Linked DNA regions of Homo sapiens. The protein of the gene in region 1 interacts with the protein of each later gene in a pairwise test. Each region holds a gene or a part of one and is shown on either strand. Other genes may lie near its edges.

Region 1 (7,025 bases):
TGGCCCGTTAATCCTCCCTAGAGCCTTTGAGGCTTTGCTGAGCAGGACCGGCTAGCCACACAGGGAGGCGTGCAGGGACGCCATGGGCGTCCTTTGGGGTCACACTGCATTGTTCATCCAGTTCACGTCCACTCCCCTGTGGCTCTGAGTGGGCTGTGATTTGGCCATGACCGGACCTCCCCTCCCCACGAGCATCCAGAGCACTTGTTGACGGTGTGATGACACTGAGCTTGGGAACCCTGGACTCCCTTGCCAGCATCCATGGCAGCCCTGACCCCTGACTCCGGTGTCGGGCGATTCCTGCTGTCCCAGGGCAGTCGGCACGAGCCCTACCCGGATCTCTGTTGTCCTGAGCTTTTTAGGGTCACAGGGGCCATAGCAGGCAGCTTGCCGTCCTCACACAGAGGGTGGAGTGGGGAGGGGAGCAGAGGGTGGCCGCCCCGTGTCTGACAGTGAAATGGTCCTGCCTTCCTCTCCCTGCCCCTCCAGGCGATCACCCCCCGATGGGCAGAGTTTCAGGAGCTTCTCCTTTGAAAAGCCCCGGCAACCCTCACAGGCTGACACTGGCGGGGACGACTCGGACGAGGACTATGAGAAGGCAAGGCTGAGCGGCAAGCCTGGGTCCCAGTGGCCAGTAGGTGGACAGGTGGTGGGAAAGCCATAGGCCAGGGCGGCCCCTCACAGACCGTCCTGAGCAAGGACCCCCCGAGAACCCGGGAGCCTAGGGGGACACAGCACCATGTAAAGCCCCGGATCCCGGCACCGGGTGGCCACCGTCCGGGGAGTGGTGGTGCGGGTGGATCACTCCGACGTTGGCACTGACACCGTCAGCCTCTTGCAGGTGCCACTGCCCAACTCGGTCTTCGTCAACACCACGGAGTCCTGCGAAGTGGAAAGGTCAGCACAAAGCCCTGTGTGTGCTGGGTCCTCCGCCATGCCCGGCTTCCTGCTTCTGTGTCCCTCTCACTAGCTTCCGTGTTGGGGAGTTGCTGGCACAAGTTCATGGCCCTGCGTGCAGCAGAAACCAGAGGAGTGGACCTCCCTGCTCTGTCCCATGCCCAGCTGGCACCCTGGCTGGCCAGGGCTCTGCTGGGCTGCTTCTGTCAGCCTCACGGCAGCCCGACGTGCTCAGCTCCTGAGACCTACAACAGCGAGAGGACAGAAAGCCAGGCTTGGGAGCGGGGCGGGAAGGTCCGTGTGAAAGCTGCCCGAGGAGGACTCACCCGCTAATATGACTGTCTTATTTTAGGTTGTTCAAGGCTACAAGCCCCCGGGGAGAGCCCCAGGATGGACTCTACTGCATCCGGAACTCCTCTACCAAGTCGGGGAAGGTAGGCGCCAGGGGAAGATGCCCCAGGGCCCCTCTGGCTCTCCACACACCCAGGCTGTGGGTGGGCCCAGGACTCCACAGTTCCTAAACCACTCCCCTTGTGGACTCTTACTTGGTGTCTCAGCTGAATTCTCTTCCCAGCAGCACCCCCCAATCTATTCCCTAATAGATCTCCATCTGCAAATTGGGGGCCATGATGGCCACCTCCCAGTGGGGGCCAGGACTCGGGTGGGGTAGGGCTCATGCTCTGGGGTGGCGGAGGCCACATGGGGCAGGGGAACGCCAGGTCTGCCCGTGTCCCTCCGAGCGTGAAGTTGTGACCTCACTGAGCCATGCTCTCCCGGGTGTGTCGGAGTGGTTATTGGTGGTTATGAGCTGTTGCTCATCAGAGGCTCTCTGAGGGCTGCCAGTGTCGCCCCCGCTGTCCTTGTGCAGGTGGTCTGGAGTCCCTCCCCGCCCCCCGAGGGCCACAGGACCCAGCCTTGATGGTTCTGCCCCCCTATCCCCAGCCCATGGTCTCCCGAGGCTGGTCCCGCTGTTTCTCAGGGAGCCGTCAGCCTCCCGCTTCCGTCCTGTAGGTCCTGGTTGTGTGGGACGAAACCTCTAACAAAGTGAGGAACTATCGCATTTTTGAGAAGGTGAGAGGGCTCTGAGTGGGACGGGGACCCTGGCCGCATGGCCTGGCAAGGGGCAGGGCAGAATCTCCCTGATGAGGCATAGGCAGCGGGTAGACTGAGACTGGCACCTCCAGGATACCGCCCTCCCCTTCCCCTCCACCATCGCTCACCCCCCACCCCTCCTGCTCAGCCTCCCTCCTCTCGTGGCCTACCTTTGTCCTCCACTGACCCTAGTGGGGATGGGCGGTCAGCCATAGACCCTGGGTTGCTTGTCTTGTCTTTTTCTTTTTGCGGGGACAGGGGTCTCACTGTCTTTCTCAGGCTGGTTTCAAATTCTGGGGCTCAAGCAATCCTCCCACCTCGGCCTCCCACAGTGCTGGGATTACAGGCGTGGGCCACCGTGCCTGGCCTAGGTTCATTTCCTGACCTTGTCTGAAGTGCTCTGGGTGCAGGCTCCTGGACATGGAGGACGGAGGGGAAGTGAGGTGGGAACATGGAGAGCACAGGCCTGATGCGGAGGCCACCTTGGGGGCACCACCGACAGCCAGGGGCCAGCCTGGTGATGCCGCTGTTGATGCTGCTGCCTTGTTTTACAGACGGGGAGACTGAGGCCTAGAGCCGCAGAGTGGCCTGGCCCTGCTGACGCTCCCCCTTCTCTTCCCCCACAGGACTCTAAGTTCTACCTGGAGGGCGAGGTCCTGTTTGTGAGTGTGGGCAGCATGGTGGAGCACTACCACACCCACGTGCTGCCCAGCCACCAGAGCCTGCTGCTGCGGCACCCCTACGGCTACACTGGGCCTAGGTGATGGCAGTCCATGTGGCTGCCAGGCCAAGGCAGTCACAGGGGCCCTGACCCCAGGCCACACAGACGGACATGGGCCCACATGGGAGGGTGAGCAGGAGCAAGGCTGTGCTTGCCTAGGGCCTCTGTGATGGACATCTCGTAGGACCCAGCCAGTCTCATCCAGCAGGTTGGGTTCTAGGGCTGAACCAGGCGCCAGGCTCCAGAGGACGAAGGGACTCTGTTGCCCCACACTAACTTGCCCTGTCCCAATCCCAGAAACCCAGGACCAAGCTGTGCCTGGGCTCCAAGGACAGGAACACTGGTCCCCCCATCACACTCACCCCTAAGTGGGCTGGGAGCCAGGCAGGGCCAGGGCAGCTGGGTGGGGGCCGGGGCTGGCCCTGGGACCCCCAGGAACGCTAAGACACAGGCTCCAGTAGGGGCTGTTGCCTCCAATAAAGCAGCAGTGAGCTTTGCCTTGGTGGCTGGGGCTTGATTGGGAAGGAGGGGATTACCAGCTTACTGGGTGCCCATGCTGATGTCTAAGTGGTGACCGCAGCAGTACCCGGGAACCCCAACAGTTGGTTGTCTTGTCTTCCAGGGTGCAGGTCACTGAGTGACTTCCCCAGGGTGCACAGCGAGTAACAGATCAGGACCCAAACTTGGGCAGTCTGGGCTGGGAGCCCACACCCCACTCACCAGTTCTGCTGCCTCAGGTCAGGCCAGGGCAGTGCTGCTGCAGAGCTAGAAGGCCCTGCAGCTACAGCTGCTTCATTCCCTGCATTAGTGCCTGGTTACTGGGTACCTCCTGAGTGGCTGTCCCCGTTCCAGAACTTGCATACACTGAGCGGGCTACAGAGCTAGAAGGCCCTGCAGCTACAGCTGCTTCATTCCCTGCATTAGCGAGCAGTTATTGGGTACCTCCTGCATGCCTGGTCCCATTCCAGACAGGGGCCTCTGGCCTGGCTGAGTTCACAGCCCAGTCTGGGGACAGCTGGGTATGAGGTGCTTACGGCACAGTGTCCAGGGCAGCTGGGTGTGCAGGGACTGGGGGCTCCCGGAAGATTTTTTGGAGGAAGTAACAGCTACGATGGGATGGGAACAGTGGACCCTAAGCAGGCCAAGGGTGCGTAGGGACGGTGGTACCCAGATGCCCAAGTCTTCCAGGCAATACCTGGCTCAGGCCCAGCCCCAATCCATCCCCTTACTTTCTGCCATGGAGTTCCAGCAGGTCACTCTCCCTGGCACACCTTCCAGGCTGGATTTTTAATGAAACAGACTCAGGGAGGTAGGGGCTGGCAGGGACCCTAGAATCCTTGTGATTTTTCTTAGCACCTTATGTCAGGGAAACCTAAACTGAGGTCAGCACTTGGGCCCACTGACAGTGACTGACTGGGGGAGAAGGTCCTGCAGCCCCCTTCCCCTGGGTGTGTTCTGGGGACCTGTGGTTTGCTGGCGGAAACAAGTGATGAGGCTGGTTAGCGGATGTGGGAGGCTGTGACCCCAGGGGGCCATAGGGTGCGGTGGAACTGCAGGCCCTGCAGATGACGGCAGCCAGCTGCTTCCAGGAACCAGGTGTCCAAGGCCACCTCTGCAGGGGTTTCCTCTTCAGCCTGCCTGGGGTGAGAGGTCAGTGCACCACAGCCGAGGCTGGAGCACAGGGAGCTTCTGTTGTTCTGATCTATCTCTGGAAAACCAGCCATTCCTCCTCCCTGCAGTCAGAATTCTTTGCCCTGTCTGACCTGAACTTGCTTAGGGAGTCATGCCACTCCCCACTGTGGCCATAGTTTCTCTTCCTGTAAAATTTTATTATTTTAGTTTTTTGTTTTTGAGATGTAGTCTCACCCTGTCGCCCAGGCTGGAGTGCAATGCCGTGATCTCCGCTCACTGCCACCTCCGCCTCTCTAGTTCAAGCGATTTTCCTGCCTCAGCCTCCCGAGTAGCTGGGATTCCAGGCGCCCGCCACCACGCCTGGCTAATTTTTTGTATTTTTAGTAGAGACGGGATTTTATCATGTTGGCCAGGCTGGTCTCGAACTCCTGACCTCAGGTGATCTGCCCACCTTGGCCTCCCAAAGTGCTGGGATTACAGGCATGAGCCACTGTGCCTGGCCCCTTCCTGTAAAATTTTTAAATGGAGAATTGGGTGCGAGATGTGGTTTCCAGCCTGGTGCCTGGGGTGCTGAGCTAGTGAGTGGTGCAGTCCAGGACACCTTTGCTTTATGTCACTTACACGGTCACCTGGAGCCGGCTCAAGTGGCTAAAGCATCCTGGGGCCCAGAGCCAGGTGATAGGTCCCTCTGGCCAACTGGACAGTTGAGGCCTGTGGTTACCCGAAGCCCAGCTGGGGCCCTGGTCCAGCCTCGCCTCCCAGACTCTGCACCTGCTAGCACAGCTGTCCACGTCTGTGTGAGCTGCTCTAGGCCGAGGGCCTCAGTTTCAAGAGTGTGTTGGGGTGGGATGGGGCAGGCCGTGGTCCTCCAGCATGAAGAAGGAGCCATGAGGAGTTCCCATGACCTCCCGAGACTTGCCATAAGTGTTCTAGTCCACATATAAGGGTAGGGTTGGGATTACCATTTACTGACCACATCTGTGAGGTGCCGAGCTGGGTGCTTGACATCATTTGCTTGGAGAAGCAGCTGCTAGTAGACCCATTTTACAGGTGAGAGAACCAAGTCTCACAGAGGCCTGGGTTCAAGTCCCACCTCTGCCACTAACTGGCATGTGACCCTATCTATCCTTCACTGCTCTGAGCCTAGACCCTGGCCCCTGCCTGGCTCCCTGCCAGGCTCCCTGCCACCCCTCACGACCTCTGATGGTCGTTGTGGGGGTCTCTTGCCTGGCTCCCAGGGCTAGGGTTAGGGCTCTGGAGGTGCTTTCACTCAACCAAGGGGGCCACAGCACTGGGGAGTGAAACTGCCCCGCCTCACCCTGCGTTGCCCTCTGGGTCTGTGAGGGTGGGCTGGCAGGAGGCCTAGGCCTTGCCCTAGGGGCAGTCCTGCTTCCTCATTTTATAGATAGGGAAACTGAGGCTTTGGGAGGACTCACTGACATACCTACCTTCAAGATGAGTTCAGGTGGGCTCAGTTCTGGGGCTTGGGAAAAGGGCCCCAGTGGCTTTGGGAAGCACCCCCAGCCCAGGGTGAAACATGCTTCTTCTCTTCCTGTGGTTCCATCCGAAGGATTGTGGTGAGCCCCGTGCCTTCAGTTAATAAAGATTTGTATTGTGAAAAGATTTTTTCTTTTTTTTTTGGGACACAGTCTCACTCTGTCGCCCAGGCTAGAGTGGATTGGCGTGATCTCGGCTCAATGCAAATCTCCAGGGTTCAATCGATTCTCCTGCCTCACCCTCCCATGTAGCTGGGATTACAGCTGCCTGCCAAATTTTTGTATTTTTAGTGGAACCGGGGTTTCACCATGTTGGCCAGGCTGGTCTTGAACTCCTGACCTCAACTGATCCGCCCACCTTGGCCTCCCAAGTGCTGGGATTACAGGCGCGAGCCACGGCGCCCAGCCTTGAAAAGATGTTTTTAGAACCAGAAGAAACCTCGGTTCCCACTGATCCTTCTGGGCCACGTTGTGCGGAGCTCCCCTGCTGGTTGGGGCTCAGCGCAGCCCCAGGGAGGTGCTTCCTGCACCTCAGGATGGGCGAGGGTGGGCATTGGGGGAGAGGGGGACCTGGGACCTGCGGCTTAGTTCCCTGAGGCAGGCAGGGCTTATTGGGGCCATTTCATAGAAAGGCAGATTGAAGCTCAGCAGGGAAGAGGCTTTTGAGGGTGATCCAGGCGCTGGAGGGATGGCCTAGGACACCAGGGTCACACCAGGAACATGGGAGGGCCGTGCTTGTCTCTAGACGAGGGGAATGGGGGAAGGGCCACAACCTCTGTTTCTGTGACCCAGCAGCATCAAGCCCCTCGCTGGGCACCTCGCACACACCCCCTGCCTTATCTCTGCCTGCACGCCCTGTTCCCTCCACCTAGACTGCCTGCTGAGGGGGCAGTGCCAGGAGGTTGCCTGTCCTTGGGGAAGAGGGGCAGTGACCCTGTGAAGATGCTTGACAGACAACCCCCACCACCTCAGAAGTGTGTGTGAGTGGTGAACCCTTTTAAGCCATCTTCCAGCCATTCTCACTGGAGGGAGATTTGATGGGTACAGAGCAGACCCCTACCTGTCTACCCTCCTTCGGACCCCTAGGAAGCTTCGCAGGCCTTCCAGGCTGCCAGACAGCTGCCCTGGCGTTGCCGTCTGCTTCTTCCCTGGCCCCACTCTGAGGGGCTCAGAGCTGAGGCAGAATC
Region 2 (7,025 bases), on another chromosome or scaffold:
ATACTTTCTGAAGGCTGGTTATAAATAGCTGCTTTGAAGTCTGTATCTGATCATTCCAATAGTTGAATCATCTCAGGATGGGCATGTATTGATCATCTTCTTTTCTCCCATGTTAAGATTTTCCTGGTTTTCATACACTGGGTTATTTTGGATAACCTGGATATTTTAAATATTATGTTGAGACTCTGGACCTTGTTTAAATCCTAAGCAGAATGTTGACTGTTTAAAGTGTTTGCACTACTAGTCATATTAGTCCTGTATCTACACCGGTCAGTCTGGGACCTGCAATGTGCATCTAGGGTCAGCCCTGTGCGCAGCTTGGCAGCAAGCCAATGACTTCACATATCACTTTATCGGATCACTCACTTCATCTCTCCCTTCTCTGTACTCTCCCTGAAACACAACAGCTCCCTGCAACATCCCTACCAAGACCTCCAGCCACAAATCTGGGGCTCTTTCCCTACCTACCCTGCTGCATACTCCCTGAAACTGCATCCAGGGCCCAGCGCAGGGGGGCAGAAAGGAGCTGCAGAAGGTGGTTGCCCCATGCTTTTGGGGCCATGGCTCCTCTAGACAGAGGGTAGCGTTACCCTCTCAGGTTTCAAGTGCGTACCCAGCTCACACTACCGTCACTGTGCCACCACTGCCACCTCCATGTTACTGCCCAGGAGCTGGGGTAGAGAAGAAAAGAAAAATTGGAGGGATTCCCCCAACTCACTGACTTCGAGGGGCTTCACATCCCACTCCTCTGATTCTTCCTGGAGCTCTTTCTGTTGGTGCACTTGAGGTTTCAAGCCGCCTGTGTGTCCAGGCTAGGCAATACTTGTTACCTCACCACTTCTCTGCGGAACTTTGAATCTGATCTCCTTTTCTTATCTGTCTACTGACAGCTGCTCCTGCATCTGTCCAGGATTGGTGGCTGTCAGTGGGAGAGACATGGGAAGATGCTCCCTCCACCTTCCTGGGACCACCTTGTTGACTCAGCAGCCTTCCTCGCCGCCCACCATGCTATGCCTTCCTGGATGGAGGCCCTGAGGGTGGCTTTTGGTTTTCCTACCCCTGTACCCCTCCAAGAAAGCTCTGGCACACTGCAGAGGCCAGCAACTACTTGTCAAATGAATCAAAGGAAAGTCAAGCCGGAGCCAAGGGTCAGAAGCAGGGGCTTGCTTCCCCGAAGTCCAGCCCTTCTTTGGGCTCCCCTTTCCTTTTTGACACCTCCTGCTTGGTTGGCAGTGAGGTCTCCCAGGTCTGGGGGATCCTTGCCACTGCTTCTGCACCCAGCCCTGGCTAAGCGGCCTTGTTCTCATCAAAGCTGCCGAGACCTGCAGGGTACTCAGCTTCTACTTCCACTCCTACACAGCTGCAAGTGACTTGAAAATATGACCATGCTTCAAAGTCTCCAGTGATTCCCACTGTGTTGGGACACAAAGCCCACCTCTCTGCCATGTGCCCCTGATGGTCGCTGCCCCAGCTTGTTTGCTTTCTGTAGGGCTTGGGTCTTTGCCAACCCCTCTACCTGAATTGCTCTCCCTGTAGGACTCATCATAGCTGAGGCCTTTGCACTCCGCTCTTTCCACTCACATGTCACCTCAGGGCTGTCCCCGGCCTCTCCTTTCCCATCTCTCCCAGTACATTATGGTCCTTCCTTCCTAGCATCTGGTGCTATCTACGGTAGGCATGTTTAGCTGCTGGTACGATCCCTCCTCCACTGAAATATGGGCTTCATGTCTGGCCCCTGTGGGACTGCCAGAGCCTGGTCCTCAGTCATGTTTAGTTGGGCTAGTGAATCAACTCTTGGTCAAAGGGACAAAAGCAGATGAGGAGATGTGGCTTCAATCAGGATCAGTGTGGAACAGTGAGACCTGCGCATGGCACTGCTAGGAGGGATGGGTTCCACCTGCCAGCCTTGGGGGTCCTGGCAGCCGACAGGACTTTGCCCACTGGGACTTGTCTGCCAACCTTTGGGTACAGAGCCTTAGCTTCACAGGCCCCAAGCCAGGAGCCCCTCCCCAGGTAGGCCAGCAGGGATGGAGGGAGGCCTGTCGAGGGTTTCTTGCACACTCAGATCCAAGTCTCAGAGTGGTGGTCCCTCTGCTGGCCTCTCACCTACCCGCTCCTGTTATCAGAAGTGTCGCAGGTGACAGTGTGGTCACTGGGGTGGGAGGAAATGGGAGGCCCTGGATGGGGCCCATGCCCAAGGGTCTGGCCATGGCCCCTTCATTAGGGCCCCAATTGTGACTTTATTGCTCATAGTCTCTTCCCTGCCTTGGTGGCTCTCATCCCCCAAACCTGAATGCAGAAGTCTTGGTCCTAGACTCAACTCCGTGCCACCCTTCAGCCTACGTTGTGGGTTCCTGCTAAGCTGAGCATTTACCTAACAATCAAGACTTCTGACAGTCCTCAGTCCTGCCCCCAAACCCCCTTGGATTTCTCTTTTTCAAGGTGGTTTCGGCTAGGAGAGTGAGCGTGGCTTGGGTGAGGGCAGATAGGGTGGGAGCATGGGGCATGTATGGATGAGACCTTGACAAAGGGACCCCGGAGGAAAGACAGGGGCCCTTTCCCCCTTTGTCCTGGAAACCCGGCTCAGCCCCAGCCCTTGCCCATTCTGCTGCTGCTGCCTGGTACCTTCCACAAGGCCAGACTCCTCTCCACAAAGCTGTGGTCTGCACCAGCTCCTCTGGCTCTCCTCCTCTGCCTGCTGAGGGCCGCCTCCTAGCCTGGCTGCCAATCACAGGAGAAAGGGGTTGGGATTTTGTTTGTGCCTCTGTCTGAGCAGAGAATGGCTGATAGGCCACTGAGCGTTGCCCTGGAGAGCCCCTCTGTCCCTGCTATCCCCATCTCCCCTGGCCCAGACTTCTGCCCTTCACGCCCATCCCTGACCAGCAGCCCCACTCAGTCTGGGCTCTGGGTGCCAGCTGGTTATAGACATGCCACCTGAACCCAGGCCAGGAGCTGGTGGATGCGTGGGGCTATTTTAAGCACAGCCTCTTGGCCTGCACACTCCCCTGGCCCCCAGCCCCCAGCAGCTCAGCTACTGGTCACCTGCCACCGCCTGGAATGCTGATTGGCAGTTGGCTGGGGTGGGTGGGGGCTGGGAAGACACTATTATAAAGCTGGGAGTGTTGGGAAGCAGCCGTCCCCGTCCAGAGTCCTCTGTGGTCCCTGCTGCCACCATGGCCACTCACCGCCTCGTGATGGTCCGGCACGGCGAGAGCACATGGAACCAGGAGAACCGTTTCTGTGGCTGGTTCGATGCAGAGCTGAGTGAAAAGGGGACCGAGGAGGCCAAGCGGGGAGCCAAGGCCATCAAGGATGCCAAGATGGAGTTTGACATCTGCTACACGTCAGTGCTGAAGCGGGCCATCCGCACCCTCTGGGCCATCCTGGACGGCACGGACCAGATGTGGCTGCCTGTGGTGCGCACTTGGCGCCTCAATGAGCGGCATTACGGGGGCCTCACAGGCCTCAACAAGGCAGAAACGGCCGCCAAGCACGGGGAGGAGCAGGTGAAGATCTGGAGGCGCTCCTTCGACATCCCGCCGCCCCCGATGGACGAGAAGCACCCCTACTACAACTCCATTAGCAAGGTGGGCTGCCTTTGCTGGGAAGGCCTCTGGGAAGCTGCAGAGTGGGGAGTCGGGTGGGGGCCCACTGGCTTGGGAGGGAAAGCAGCGTGCCTGTGTCCCCCAGGAGCGTCGGTACGCAGGCCTGAAGCCCGGGGAACTCCCCACCTGCGAGAGCCTCAAGGACACCATTGCCCGGGCCCTGCCCTTCTGGAACGAGGAGATTGTTCCCCAGATCAAGGCCGGCAAGCGAGTGCTCATTGCAGCCCACGGGAACAGCCTGCGGGGCATTGTCAAGCACCTGGAAGGTGAGGCCACCTTCAGGAGCCTGGGCAGGGTGGGTGGGCAGCAGCCCCAGCTGGCTTCTCATCTCAGCAAAGTCTCTCGCCCATGGACCAGGCTTTCTAGGCGTGGGGCTCCACATCATTCACTGAAAAAGGAGGGCTGAGAAGCCATTTTTTAGTTTTGTGAAATTTTCCCCATTTCTGTGTAACTGGGACACACTCCACAGGGGCTGACTGCACTCGAAGCTCGCTGTGTCCCGAGGTGGGGCAGGCTCCAAAGGTGGCATCTGCCAAGGGACACCCAGCTAGGAAACGGAAGGGCTGGGCTTAGAGCATCTGGCTCCAAATCCCAACTTACTGTGGGGCCCTGGACAAGCCACCTCCATCTCTGGGCCTCTCCCTTTTCCGGGGTGGTGGGGAGCTCCCCCTGGTACTGAATTCCTCTTGATGTAGGCTTGGACCCCTCGCAGGGCCCTCCCCCATCAGGTCCTCAGAATCCCTGCATGAGCTTCACCACCTATCTCCCTCTGGAGCCCCTCTCTGGGCAAAGGAAAGACCAATCAAAAGAGGGGTGCAGGACTATGGAGTGGCCAGACTCTGGGCTTGCAGCTGGGCTCCCACTGAAGAGCAAGGGCTGACAAATGGGCCCGGGATGCATGGGCGCAGTAAGGCCTCGCCCAGAGTGACTGGCACCTCCGCTCCGCCTCCCACCTTAGTATTCTGACACAAGGGCAGTCTAAATTAGCATCTGAATGACCTTAAAGCTTGTTGAGTCCTGGAAAGGCTAGAAGGGTGTGCCCCAGACCTCCTGCTCCTAGGGCCGTTGGGCAGTTGGCCAGAGCACCCAGACCGGCAGGCCCCGGAGACCCAGCCAGCCCCAAGCCTGCCCGCTCCAAACACGGACACCTGGCACCTGGCACTGGGGCCAGGCAGAGGGAAGGACCACCTGCCTCCTCTCCCTTCCGGAGACTTCATGCAGCCCCATGACCCTCCCACAGCCTGGTTTGGGGAAAGGGGACGCACTTTTGGTGGTGAATATGAGGGATTTCACTCTGACTCCCCAGAGAACATTTTCTTAAACCCTCCTGCACGGAGCAGGGGTGGAGTGGCGCGAACATCAAAGGTCGAGCTGCTATTCCCAGCTCAGGGGCTGCAGGAGGCAGGCAGGGTCAGGTTTCGACCAGGCTCGGCCTCCCTGTCCCTCCTCCAGCTCCATTCCGCACTTGCTCCTCTGTTCAGGATGTCTAGAATTTAGAGCACTTTAGAAACCAAAGGGTGCTGGGCACGGTGGCTCACTCCTGTAATCCCAGCACTTTGGGAGGCTGAGGCAGGCAGATCACCTGAGGTCAGGAGTTTGAGACCAGCCTGACCAACATGGTAAAACCCGTTTCTACTAAAAATACAAAATTAGCCGGGTGTGGTGGCGCTCACCTGTAATCCCAGCTACTTGGGAGGCTGAGGCAGAATCACTTCAACCCAGGAGATGGAGGTTGCAGTGAGCCAAGATCGTGCCACTGCACTCCAGCCTGGGCAAGAGGAGTAAAACTCCATCTCAAAAAAAAGAAAAAGAAAAAGAAAAGAAAAAAAAAAAACAAAGGGTGAGTGTCCCTTCCTGACCCTCAACTTCAGTCTGGCTGGAGTCACACTGGGCTGAGGGAACTATGGACAGCACCACCACAGATCACAGCCACTTGGGTGGGGCTGAAGTCCCCATTTTTTTCACCACTGGGCTATTTCTGTAGGCTGCTTGGTCTAACTCAGTTACTCCTTGACCTTTGGCAACATTTCTGTGGCCTCGTTCTCAGGGCTGGGAAGGAATTGGTGCCAGGGGAACTGGCTCTGTGGACCATAAAGGTCACATAGTGTCTGCTGTGTAAACAGGCTGGGGACAGAGGGGCTAAGGACACCTATTCCTTCCGGCATAGGGATGTCAGACCAGGCGATCATGGAGCTGAACCTGCCCACGGGGATCCCCATTGTGTATGAGCTGAACAAGGAGCTGAAGCCCACCAAGCCCATGCAGTTCCTGGGTGATGAGGAAACGGTGCGGAAGGCCATGGAGGCTGTGGCTGCCCAGGGCAAGGCCAAGTGAGGGGTGGGCTTGGGCAATAAAGGCACCTCCCCCAACAGCCTGGAGTCCAGCGCAGCCGTGCATGCCAGGCTCACACCGCCATCAGCTGTGGGGACTCCAGAACCAGGGGTGCAGCCACCCACCCTCCCCCACTCCATACGTGTGTCACCAGGGGCAGGAGCCTAGTACCCACACCTAGTCATCAGGACACTGAGCCAGGGCTGCAACCACTCCATGAGTTTGCAGTCAGGACAAGCCTGTGGTGACCCTGAAGCTTCAGAGCCACTTAGTAACCATGCTCCAGAATTGGCGTGCTTGGGGCCAGTTAGAAGAGGCCAAGTGACCCAGCTCTCCCCATGGGGAGCAAGGACCACAGCCCAGGACACGGCTTCCTGGACAGCTTCCTGCAGAGGGCAGGTGGTCCTCTGCTGTCCTTGCAACCCCCGGGTGGCACTTTGAGCCCTGCCTCTTGGGTTGGGACAGGCAAGCCCACAGGGGGCCTCAAAGCTGGCAACAGCCCAAACCTGGGTCTTCCATGGGAGTGGAGGGGAAGTTCCCTCTTCATGGGAGAGGCACCAGGAAGCCCTGGCGAAAAGGGGAGAGGCCTGAGCACAGGAAGGCCAGGAGCAAGGTTGGGCTCCATGCAGCCTTCACCCCAGGCACTAGCAGGTAACACCTTGAGTCAACCGCCTAGCAGTCTGCCTAGCAGCTCTGGGGCACAGGAGGGACCTAATTCCCCGGATGCTCAGTGGGTGCCAGGTACCTGACGCCACACAGTGGGCCATCCCATGTAGGCAGAGGCTCCCTGAAGCTGGGAGCAGGGCAGCCCTTGGCCTCTCCTAGAGGAACTGGAACGCAGGAAGGCTCCAACTTCAGTCCCATCTTAACATTTAGCCTCTTCCTGGTGGCTGATCATCATCAGCCACAGTCTCAGGGTGAGGGTGCTCACCCCAGACACGGAGCAGAGGCAGACACTGGGCAGGTGGTGGGGTGCTATTCCCACATGGGAGCATTCAGGCTACAGCAGGACAGGTGAGAGCTGCGAGCCTGTGTAGACCAAACTGGGAATTCGTGGTCCAAAAGCATATTTGTTCTTCAGAGACACGG

Evidence for each region. Proteins that work in one complex are often made in the same cells at the same time.
Region 2: the proteins of SH3BP2 (region 1) and DBNL interact in binary tests that used the Homo sapiens proteins (3 or more experiments, as listed by UniProt).

What each region holds. Positions count from the first base shown.
Region 1 is NC_000004.12:2,831,082-2,838,106, forward strand, and holds part of SH3BP2 (SH3 domain-binding protein 2), read left to right. Parts: intron 1-489; coding exon 490-598; intron 599-841; coding exon 842-897; intron 898-1,249; coding exon 1,250-1,331; intron 1,332-1,908; coding exon 1,909-1,968; intron 1,969-2,615; coding exon 2,616-2,753; 3' UTR 2,754-7,025. UniProt on the Homo sapiens protein: Binds differentially to the SH3 domains of certain proteins of signal transduction pathways. Binds to phosphatidylinositols; linking the hemopoietic tyrosine kinase fes to the cytoplasmic membrane in a phosphorylation dependent mechanism.
Region 2 is NC_000007.14:44,061,678-44,068,702, reverse strand, and holds part of DBNL (drebrin-like protein), read right to left. Parts: 3' UTR 5,940-7,025; coding exon of another isoform or gene 5,773-5,939; 3' UTR 3,872-5,772; coding exon of another isoform or gene 3,691-3,871; 3' UTR 3,588-3,690; coding exon of another isoform or gene 3,174-3,587; 3' UTR 1-3,173. Other genes in the region: PGAM2 (phosphoglycerate mutase 2), read left to right, coding at 3,174-3,587, 3,691-3,871, 5,773-5,939. UniProt on the Homo sapiens protein: Adapter protein that binds F-actin and DNM1, and thereby plays a role in receptor-mediated endocytosis.